Linked DNA regions of Homo sapiens. The protein of the gene in region 1 interacts with the protein of each later gene in a pairwise test. Each region holds a gene or a part of one and is shown on either strand. Other genes may lie near its edges.

The links.
Region 2: the proteins of RIOK3 (region 1) and PAK2 interact in a two-hybrid assay, tested with the Homo sapiens proteins (one large-scale study listed by BioGRID and IntAct).

Annotation. Positions count from the first base shown.
Region 1 is NC_000018.10:23,449,929-23,456,170, forward strand, and holds the start of RIOK3 (serine/threonine-protein kinase RIO3), read left to right. Parts: upstream 1-3,358; 5' UTR 3,359-3,511; coding exon 3,512-3,574; intron 3,575-6,242.
Region 2 is NC_000003.12:196,797,863-196,802,356, forward strand, and holds part of PAK2 (serine/threonine-protein kinase PAK 2), read left to right. Parts: intron 1-4,064; coding exon 4,065-4,165; intron 4,166-4,494. UniProt on the Homo sapiens protein: Serine/threonine protein kinase that plays a role in a variety of different signaling pathways including cytoskeleton regulation, cell motility, cell cycle progression, apoptosis or proliferation.

The DNA.
Region 1 (6,242 bases):
CAAACAGCATCCATACAGTTTGTTCATTTGCAAATATTTATTGAGTGCCTACTATATGCCAGCCACCATGCTAGGCACTGGTTTACAATAGTGAACACAATTCCTGCTCTCCTGGGAGGAAAAAAAAAACAGATAGGCAAATAAATGTGTATTTACAGTTTTACAGTTTTTGATCGCTGCTGTGTTCCATAAACAACCTAATTGTGACATGTATAACATAAAATTAATTCTATCATCTTCCCTTCAAACCAGATCTCCAGGCACCGCCTTCCACCCAGTCAACCAATCAAAAAACGGAAGTTATCTCAGACTTCCTGACCTCCATTGAGATGCCTGCCTCCCATCCTGCCCTGCCCCCATCTGGCACTGCCAACATCGGCACCAAAACCCAAGAATCAAATCTTGGAAATAAGAGAAATTGGATCAGAGTTGGAATAAAGAAAGAAAAAGTTTCTGAGACTTGAAATTAGACTGAAGGTATTAACACATTTAAAGACTGTGTCAGCCGGGCGCAGTGGCTCACGTCTGTAATTCCAGAACTTTGAGAGGCCGAGGCAGGCGGATCACCTGAGGTCAGGAATTAGAGACTAGCCTGGCCAACATGGCAAAACCCCGTCTCTTAATAAAAAATACAAAAAAATAAAAATAAAAATTAGCCGGGTGTGGTGGCAGGCGCCTGTAATCCCAGCTACTCGGGAGGCTGAGGCCAGAGAATCGCTTGAACCTGGGAGTCAGAGGTTGCAGTGAGCCGAGATTGCGCCACTGCACTCCAACCTGGGCTACAGAGTGACACTGTGTCCAAAAATAAAAAAATAAAAAATAATAATAATAATAATTAGCTGGGTGTGGTGGCACGCGCCTGTAGTCCCAGCTACTCGGGAGGCTGAGGCAGGAGAATTGCTGCTTGAATCCGGGAGGGGGATGTTGCAGTGAGCCGAGATCATGCCACTGCACTCCAGCCTGGGCGACAGAGTGAGACTCCGTCTCAAAAAACAAAAACAAAAACAAAAAAAACTCTTGGACCTGAACCTTTCCTGCATTCTCCAACCCATTCTCTCACTTTGTCCCTGTTGAACCCTACATCTGACCATGCCGAACCACCTGGCCTTTTCCGAGGTACCCTGAAGACTGCTCCCCTTGTACAGAAGGCCCTGCTCCACCTTACAGCCCATCTCACCAATGCCTGGTCATCTTGTGAGGCTGAGATCAAGTGTCATCTACTCTAAGGAATCCTTCCTGACATCTGGGTAGATCTGACCTCTTCCGGCCGGGCGCGATGGCTCACGCCTGTGATCCCAGCACCTTGGGAGGCCAATGCGGGCGGATCACGAGGTCAGGAGTTCGAAACCAGCCTGGCCAACATGGTGAAACACCGTCTCTACTAAAAATACAAAAATTAGCCGGGTGCAGTGGCACGCGCCTATAGTCCCACCTACTCGGAAGGCTGAGGCAGAAGAATCGCTTGAACCCACGAGGTGGAGGTTGCAGTGAGCCTTGATCATGCCACTGCACTCCAGCCTGGCGACAGAGCGAGACTCTATTTCAAAAGAAAAGAAAAGAAAAGAAAAGAAAAGAAAAGAAAAGAAAAGAAAAAAGTTAAAAAAAAAAAGATCTGACCTCTCTCCTTTACATTCAAAACAAAACAAAAAGAATATTCAGATTCTTAGTTTTATTTTCGACTTCCTGTCCTTTTCTGATATATCCCCCAAATAGTCTCTCACTGGCACATTTTTGTCATACACTGCATCTCAGCCTTAGCCTTTCTTTCTGGTCTGGTCTTTTCCTTTTAATCTTTTTTCTCTTTTTTTTTTTTGAGACGGAGTCTCACTCTGTTGCCCAGGTTGGAGTGCAGTGGCATGATCTTGGCTAATTGCAACCTCGGCCTCCCGAGGTCAAGTGATTCTCCTGCCTCAGCCTCCTGAGTAGCTGGGATTACAAGTGCGTGTCACCACACCCGGCTGCTTTTTGTATTTTTAGTAGAGATGGGGTTTCACCGTGTTGGCCAGGCTGGTCTCAAACTCCTGACCTCAGGTGATCCACCCACCTTGGCCTCCCAAAGTGCTGGGATTACAGGCATGACCCACCACGCCCAGCCCTCTCCTATTTTTTCCTAGCCAGAATTGAGAAGTCCATTTCTATTAATAGTTACACCCATTTTTCTTAAACTATTTATCGTCCAATTATAATCCTTTGAACACTAGGAAGGAACACAATTTCCACACACATTCACATATATAGGCAACATTTGCCAAGCACACATCTGCACCCTATCATATGGCTATAGTTTGCCTTATTGCAGTAGGGGTATTTGGAGGATTCAGAACATGTTTTCACCTGGAATGGAAAGGAGGCAAAGATTGTGTGCTAATGGAAATCATTAAGATCAGTAACCCAGGGCTCTCAAGTATGGACAGTTAGAGATACTGACTCGGAACTGAGATTTAGGGAAAACAGTTATTCAGTACCTATTTCTAGAATGTTTGAATATACAACATATAGACAGTGTATAGTTTATAGTCAAAATATAATGTACAGCCAGTCCAGTTCCCAAACCGATTGTCTGGGTTCACCCCTTATTAGCTTTGCCACTTGTTATCTGTGTGACCTCAACTAAATTACTTTACCTCTCTGTGCCTCAGTTTCAATATCAGTAAAATAGAGATAATGACAGAATTTAGCTCTCACGGTAATTTTGAGGACTAAAAAGTTAATGAAAGATTTGAACAGTGCATTGATATACTAAGTGAAATGCAATGTTTAGTTATCTTTTATCTGGTCATTTTATTAGAATCTCTACAAAATACAGAAACAAAAGTTTTATTATGCAGTCTTATTTTTGTTCACTGTTACGTAACACATTTTACACATTTTCCGCATTCCACGCCCCGCCCTTCAACAACAACCACCACAAACTCCGACCGTCCTTTCCAGGCCCTTTCCCTCTATAAACCTGCCGTTTTCTGTCTCCCAAGTCATCCCAGTTTAGAACTGCTCCAGGAAATAATGAATGAACAGAGAGAGCCTAGTTTGTTTATTTATTTACAATCCACTAGTCTAATCTAGTTTAGATCCAGCGGCAATTTTTGGGGTGCCAAGGAGGAAAGAAGGAGATGGCAGTGCGGGGACAGGGCAGAGCCTGGGCCAAAGGAAGCCACACCCAGTTCTTGCCCTGCCCTGCCCGACACAGGCAACGTGACCCCAAGCGACAGCCAGCTGATGCTTGCTTCTCCGAGCCCGGCGGTCAGCAGCCGGAAGTAGCCCGCCCGGGGGCGGGGAAAGGTGCCTTAAGGAGGAGCTAGGGGCGTGCGGCCAATTGCAAGCGACTGTCCTAGCGAAGAGGGCGGAAGAGGAGAGATCCAGTTCCGGACGCGGCCGCCGCCGTCGCCGCCATCTGTCACCTCCACTCCGGCATCAGCAGCCAGTCGCCCGTGTCCCGCCTGTCTCCTCGGCGGAGCCTGCTGCCCGTCCTGCCACCTCTCTGCTCTGTTCTTGTCTCTGCCTTCATTCCCGAATGGATCTGGTAGGAGTGGCATCGCCTGAGCCCGGGACGGCAGCGGCCTGGGGACCCAGCAAGGTAAGTGGCAGACGAGACTGGAGTACTAGCCTTGGTCACACGGGCTGGATCTCTCGGAAAGCTCGGAGAGGGCGGCTTCGTGGGCGATTCGGGAAGTTCTGGGGCGGGACCCCGCGGACCTCGGCAAGGGGGCACTGGCCGCGGGGGTGCCGGGATGGGGATGGAGGGAGCGGAAAGAGGGGCGGAGGGCGGCTGGATCTCCCAAAGGCCACCTTGAGTGGTTAGGGCTCTCTATTTCTTCAGCGTACTTTCTGTATCACCGTAGCATGTATTTGAGCAGGACTGGCTTACACACCCTGATGATACTGGAGGGGAAACAAGCACGATCTTGTTTTTCACTGGCCAAGTGAGTCAGCCGAATACACAGCTAGCCAGACAGAAAGTTGGTTTAGGAAGCTGTTTACTTAATTTGATAAGTGTGGTTATCCCAGTTTGGAAATGTCTTGTTTTTGAAGCAGTAAAAGATAAAACCCAGGCGCACCCTCCTCCCTCGACGCTGAAATTCAAGTGCGCACCACGGACTGTAAAGTGCTTATGAATTTCATTATCTGCCTAAGCTTTGACGTTTAAACTTTTTCATAGAGTGGCAAACTAAAGACCTTTATTTCACATTTGCTTTCTGGTTTCCAGGCAGGTCCTTTTCATGATACTTTGATTATATGGATGAAAACACTTTTCTGCCACTTTATGGAGGGTCTGCTTGAGAGCAGAGTGCTTCCATTGGGATTTTTTGTTCCACAAATTAAGGTCGTAAAGGAGTCTAGCTTTTTTAGCTTCATAGTTGTTCTTTACATGCTAACACAGAATATTTGTTCCCATTTAAAAGGTCTTATTAGATCTTCAGGCTAGGCCTTAACAGGAAAAGGGGTCAATAATTAGCTATTAAGTAACCAAAAGTTAATTTTGTAAAAGTTCTCGTACAGCTGTTGGAAGAATCTGAGATACTGCGTTGGCAAATGTGGTTAAGTCTGCATGTTATTTTGTGTATTTTTCCTTGAGACCTTGTTTACAAGGTCAAGATTAGCAGACATAAAAGGATGAAATCAGTAGACAGACTAGTATTATGAATATATACCCTGTATGTTAAAGTCCTTCAGTTAAGCATTGGCAGAGGCTGGTAAAAATGTCAAATGAGACAGACTCTATTCAGAATACATCCTAATCTCAGAACAAATTTCACTTACAAACTAATTCAGTAATAAACTATTTAACAGTCATATTTTTATTTAAGTGTACATCATCAGAACTATAAAATTCCATTTTCATTGTGCAACAAAAATGCTTCTGGGATTTATAGACGCTCTATTGGGAGGACAGTGTTTTGAAAGGCAAAACAATTAGAAACAGGCTGAAAGTACTATCATTAATCCTTTTTTTCTCTAACCTTTTGGAAAACCAAAGTGATTACAGAAGCCTACATGGAGGAGGTGAAGATTTGAGGAGGGTTTTGAAAAATGGAAGGATTCTCAAAACTTTTTAGTCAGGACTTCTTTCCTTCCTTCCTTCCTTCCTTTCCTTCCTTTCCTTTCCTTTCTTTCCTTCCTTTCTTTTCTTTCCTTTCTTTCCTTTTCATTTATTTATTTATTTGAGACGGAGTCTCGCCCTATCGCCCAGGCTGGAGTACAGTGGTTTGCTCCCAGCTCACTGCGACCTCTGCCTTCCGGGTTCAGGCAATTCTTGTGACTCAGCCTCCTGAGTAGCTGGGATTACAGGCGCCTGCCACCACGCCCAGCTGATTTTCGTATTTTTTTTTGTAGAGATGGGATTTCACCGTATTGGCCAGGCTGGTCTCAAACTCCGACCTCAAGTGTCCACCCGCCTCGGCCTCCCACACTGCTGGGATTACAGGCGTGAGCCACCATGCCCAACGTCTTTCTTTTTTTTTTTTTCTTTTTCTTTTTTTTTTTTGAGACGGAGTCTCGCTTTGTTGCCCAGGCTGTAGTGCAGTGGCGCGATCTCGGCTCACTGCAAGCTCCGCCTCCTGGGTTCAAGCGATTCTCCTGCCTCAGCCTCCCGAGTAGTGGGACCACAGGTGCCCACCACCACACCCGGCTAATTTTTTGTATTTTTAGTAGAGGCGGGGTTTCACCGTGTTAGCCAAGATGGTCTCGATCTCCTGACCTCGTGATCCGCCCACCTTGGCCTCTTTCTTTTTTAATTGAGACAGGGTCTCACTCTGTCACCCAGGCTGGAGTGCAGTGGCATGATCACATCTCACACTGTGCCTTGACCTTGCAGGCTCCCACCTCGGCCTCCTGATTAGCTGGACTACAGGCCAGTGCCACCACACCTAGCTAATTTTTGGGTTTTTTTTGAGACGGAGCCTCGCTCTGTCACCAGGCTGGAGAGCAGTGGCATGATCTCAGCTCACTGCAACCTCCGCCTCCTGGGTTCAAGCAATTCTTCTTCCTCAGCCTCCCAAGTAGCTGGGACTACAGGTGCATGCCACCATGCCCAGCTAATTTTTATATTTTTAGTAGAGATGGGGTTTCACCATGTTGGCCAGGATGGTCTCGATCTCTTGACATTGTGATCCTCCCACCTTGGCCTCCCAAAGTGCTGGGATTACAGGTGTGAGCCACCGCGCCCAGCCAATTTTTGTATTTTTGTGTAGAGATCGGATTTCACCATGTTGCCTAGGCTGGTCTTGAACTCCTGGGCTCAAGCA
Region 2 (4,494 bases), on another chromosome or scaffold:
GTAAAGAAAGCACTTCACAAATAAAAAGATATTTAGAAAATATATTAAGCCGAATGAAAATTCAAAACATCAATATTTGTAGGATACTGCTAAAGCAGTACTTAGTGGAAAACTTATAGTATTAAACACCATATTAGAAGAAAAGATTTTAAATCAATGACTTTAGCTAAGCCATCTTAATAAACTAGAAGGGAAGAGCAGATGAAATCCAAAGTAAGTAGAAGAAAGGAAATAATAAAAAGCAAAATGGGAATAAATGAAATAGGGGGAAAAAGCAGCAGAGAAAATCACTGCAACCAAAAGTAGATTCATTTAGAATGTCAATAAAATGGATAAACCTATAGCCAGACTGACAGGGGGCAGTGGATGGGGAGGAGAGACACATTACCAATATTGAGAATGAGAGAGGTGGTGGCACCCCTACAGATTTTACAGATATTAAAAAGATGGTATGAACAAATATGTACCAACTTTTTTTTCTTTTCTCTTTTTTTTTTTGGAGAAGGAGTCTTGCTTTGTTGCCCAGGCTGGAGTACAGTGGTGCGATCTTGGCTCACTGCAACTGCCACCTCCCAGGTTCAAGTGATTCTCCTGCCTCAGCCTCCCTAGTAGGTGGGATTATAGGCATGCATCACCACGCCCGGCTAATTATTGTATTTTTAGTAGAGACGAGACTTCACCATGTTGGCCAAGCTGGTCTTGAACTCCTTAGCTCAAGTGATCCCTCTGCCTCAGCCTCCCAAAGTGCTAGGATTATAGGCATGAGCCACTGTGCCTGGCCAATGTTAAATTCTTAGCAAGATTTTAGCAGTTGGAATCCAGCAGTGTATAAAAAGGGTAATACATCATGACCAAGTGGATTTCGTTGGTTTAAGTTTGAAAATCGATGGATGTTATTTACTGTATTAACACAATAGAAAGGATGAGCCATGGGTTTGTCTCAATACATGGAGAAAAGGCATTTGACGGAACCCAGTATCCATTGCTGATAGAAGTGTTCAGCAAACTTGGAATAGAAGAGAATGCCCTTTAGCCTCATAAAGGACATCTTTTAAAAACCTACCATTGGCATTAAACTTAAGGGTAAAAAGAATGACAGTTTTTCCTCTTAGATCAGGAAAAATAAAATTTCTCTTCATCCACTTTTATTCAACAATGTACTGAAGGGTCTAGCTAATGTAGTAAGGCAAAAAAAAATTTTTTTTAAGAAAACGAATAAAAGGAATCCAGATTGGAAAGAAGTAAACTTGATTTTATTCACCGACAACATGATTGAATTTTTGTAGCAAAATTGTATATTTACAAAAATACTAGTGGAAGTAAGTGTAATAAGGTTTCAGGATATAAGATTAGTATTCAAGAAACAACTGTGTTTCTTTATGGCTGCAATGAATGATTAAAAAGGGAATTTTAAAACTGCCATTTGCAATAGTATCAAAACCAGGAAATACCGAGGCAGAAATCTGATGAAACAGTGTGCGCTCTGCACTGATAACTACTGCTCTGTTTCTAAGTGTCCCCCAGAGTTCATGTGTTAGAAACTGAAGCCCCAGTAAGAGAGTGTTGAGACATGGGACCTTCAAGAGGCGACGCGAGTGCTCACGGATGGACTCATGTCTTTATTGTGGATGCGAGTTGCTTATAAAAGCCAGTTTGGCCCTCTCCTGCTCTCTTTCTTGCAATGTGATGCCTTCGGCTACGTTATGACACAACAAGAAGGACCCTCACCAGGTGTGGCTTCTTGGTCCTTGACCTGGAGGACTTTCCAGCCTCCAGGAGAACTGTGAGCCAAATGAACTTTTATTTTTTTGAGGCAGTCTCACGCTGTGACTCAGGCTGGGGAGTGCAGTGACACAATCTCGGCTCACTGCAGCCTCCACCTCCTGGGTTCAAGCAATTCTTGTGCCGCTATACTCGGCTGAAGTTTGCATTTTAGATACAGTGTTTTGCCATGTTGGCCAGATGGGTCTTGAACTCCTGGCCTTATGTGATCTGCCCACCTCAGTCTCCCAAAGTGCCAGGATTACAGGCATGAGCTACTGCTCGCAGCCAGCTTCTAATGTTTATATTAATCAATTGCATAGGCAGTGGTATTCTGATAAAGCGTACCGAACGGATGAAGACAACTGCAAACACTGCTGAGAGAAATTTTTAAAGACCTAAATAAATGAAAAGATTTGCTGTTTTCATGGATCAGAAAACTCGGTGTTGTTAAGAAATCAAGAAATAAATTCTCAGCCAGGTGCAGTGGCTCATGTCTGTAATCCCAGCACTTTGGCAAGCCAAAGCAGATGGATCGCTTGAGGCCAGGAGTTTGAGACCAGCCTGGCCAACATGGTGAAACCCCATCTCTACCAGAAATTATAAAAATCAGCCTGGTATGATGGTGCATGCCTGTAATCCCAGCTCCTCAGGAGGCTGAGGTAGGAGAATTGCTTGAACCCGGGAGGCAGAGGTTGCAGTGAGCTGAGATCACGCCACTGCACTCCAGCCTGGGCGACAGAATGAGACTCCCTGTTAAAAAAGAAAAAGAAAGAAAGAAAGAAATTCTCCTTAAAATTCATCTGTATGTACATTCATTCCAATTCTAGTCAGAATTCCAACAGGCTTTCTGTAGAAATTAATAAGCTTATTCTAAAATTAATAGGGAAATGCAGAGGACCTCGATTACCCAAACAGCTTTGACAAAAGAAAAAGAAGACTTATGTGACATAGTTTCAATGCGTATTACAAAATGGCAATAAAATAATCAAGGCAGTCTGATAGTGGCATAAAGGCAGACAAACAGATAATTGCAACAGAGCAGAGCCTTCAGAGATAGACTCACACGTGTACAGACAATTGACTTTCAACAGTGGCTCCAAACAGGAACCAAAATGGCGCTGGCCTTCTAAATGGCAACACTGGAAATGCTGAGGGTTCCAACTTATATATATATAAAATTAGTGAAGAACTATCACTAAAGGGATAAATCAAGAGGAAAACGTAAGATCCAGAAAATAGATTCCAGCACATACAGGGCAGGAGTGAAGGGATGTCATGGACGGTAACTGCAGGAAGCGTAGGCATGAGCTACTGCAGATTAGAGCAGGAGGAGCTGAGAGGGAGGGGGTAGGGGGAAGGAACTGATGTGTTGGAGTTCACAGAGAACATTATTGATAGGTGTGTGGCAGAAATGTTGCAGAAATAATTTACAATCGGACCATAGAAAAACTGCATAGTTTTAAAATGTGGCAATTAGTAACTCCACTAAAAAAGGATTATGCTTGCACAAAAAAGGAGAGGTGGTTTTGTCAACTACTTGTCTTGACAGTGTGTATTATCTGCGGAGTCACAGTAATGCAAATCTGACTTCCTGATGAATGTAGCTGAGTGGAAATGGGGTTTGCTGTGTTTGCTGTCCACATTGCTCAGCATCTGAGATGTAGCCCTTTGTGAGAGAGCTGGTGCCCGAAGGGGGTGTCTCTTCTGCCTGTGCTCTGTTACTCAGGCCTGCCGTTGGTCACTCCATGTGCCTCCTCAGTGTTTGGTTGTGTCCAGCCCTACTCTATGGCAGGACAGTCTGCTTTACTTCATTTACTAGTTTCCTATCAGCCAGTTTTTAGGGGAAATCTTTTCTAGAATAACTTTGATTCTAGTGTGTTTTCTAGAATAACTTTGATCCTAATATGTTTTAGGAAAAATATAAACATAATATGCCGGGCATGCGGTGGCTCACATCTGTAATCTCAGCACTTTGGGAGGCCAAGGCAGGTGGATCAGGAGTTTGAGACCAGCCTGATCAACATGATGAAACCCTGTCTCTACTAAAAATACAAAAATTAGCCGGGCATGGTGGTGGGCACCTGTAATCCCAGCTACTTGGGAGACTGAGGCAGGAGGATGGCTTGAACCCGGGAAGCAGAGGTTGCAGTCAGCTGAGATTGCACCACTGCACTCCAGCCTGGGCAACAAGAGCGAAACTCCATTTAAAAAAACAAAAGACAAAAAATAAAATTATAAGTGCCTTTACTAGTCTTGTTTAAATAGGCTGATTCTTTCTCTTTTTTTCTAATGCCCCCTAGGAAGTAAAAAGAAAGAAAAGGAACGGCCAGAAATTTCTCCTCCATCTGATTTTGAGCACACCATCCATGTTGGCTTTGATGCTGTTACTGGAGAATTCACTGTAAGTTAACCTAGTTCGGGCCCATTTATAACGTTTAAAATAGCACTCAAACATTTTCCTTCATTATTAAATTTGAAATTAACATTTCAGGCCAGGTGCGGTGGCACACGCCTGTAATCCCAGCACTTTGGGAGGCCAAGGCTGGCAGATCATTTGAGGTCAGGAGTTCGAGACCAGTGTGGCCAACATGGTGAAACCCCATCCCTACTAAAAATACAAGAAAATTAGCCAAGCGTGGGGGTGTATGCCTGTAATTCCAACTACTCAGGAGGCTGAGGCAGGGGAATCATTTGAACCTCGGAGATGGAGGTTGCAGTGAACAGAGACTG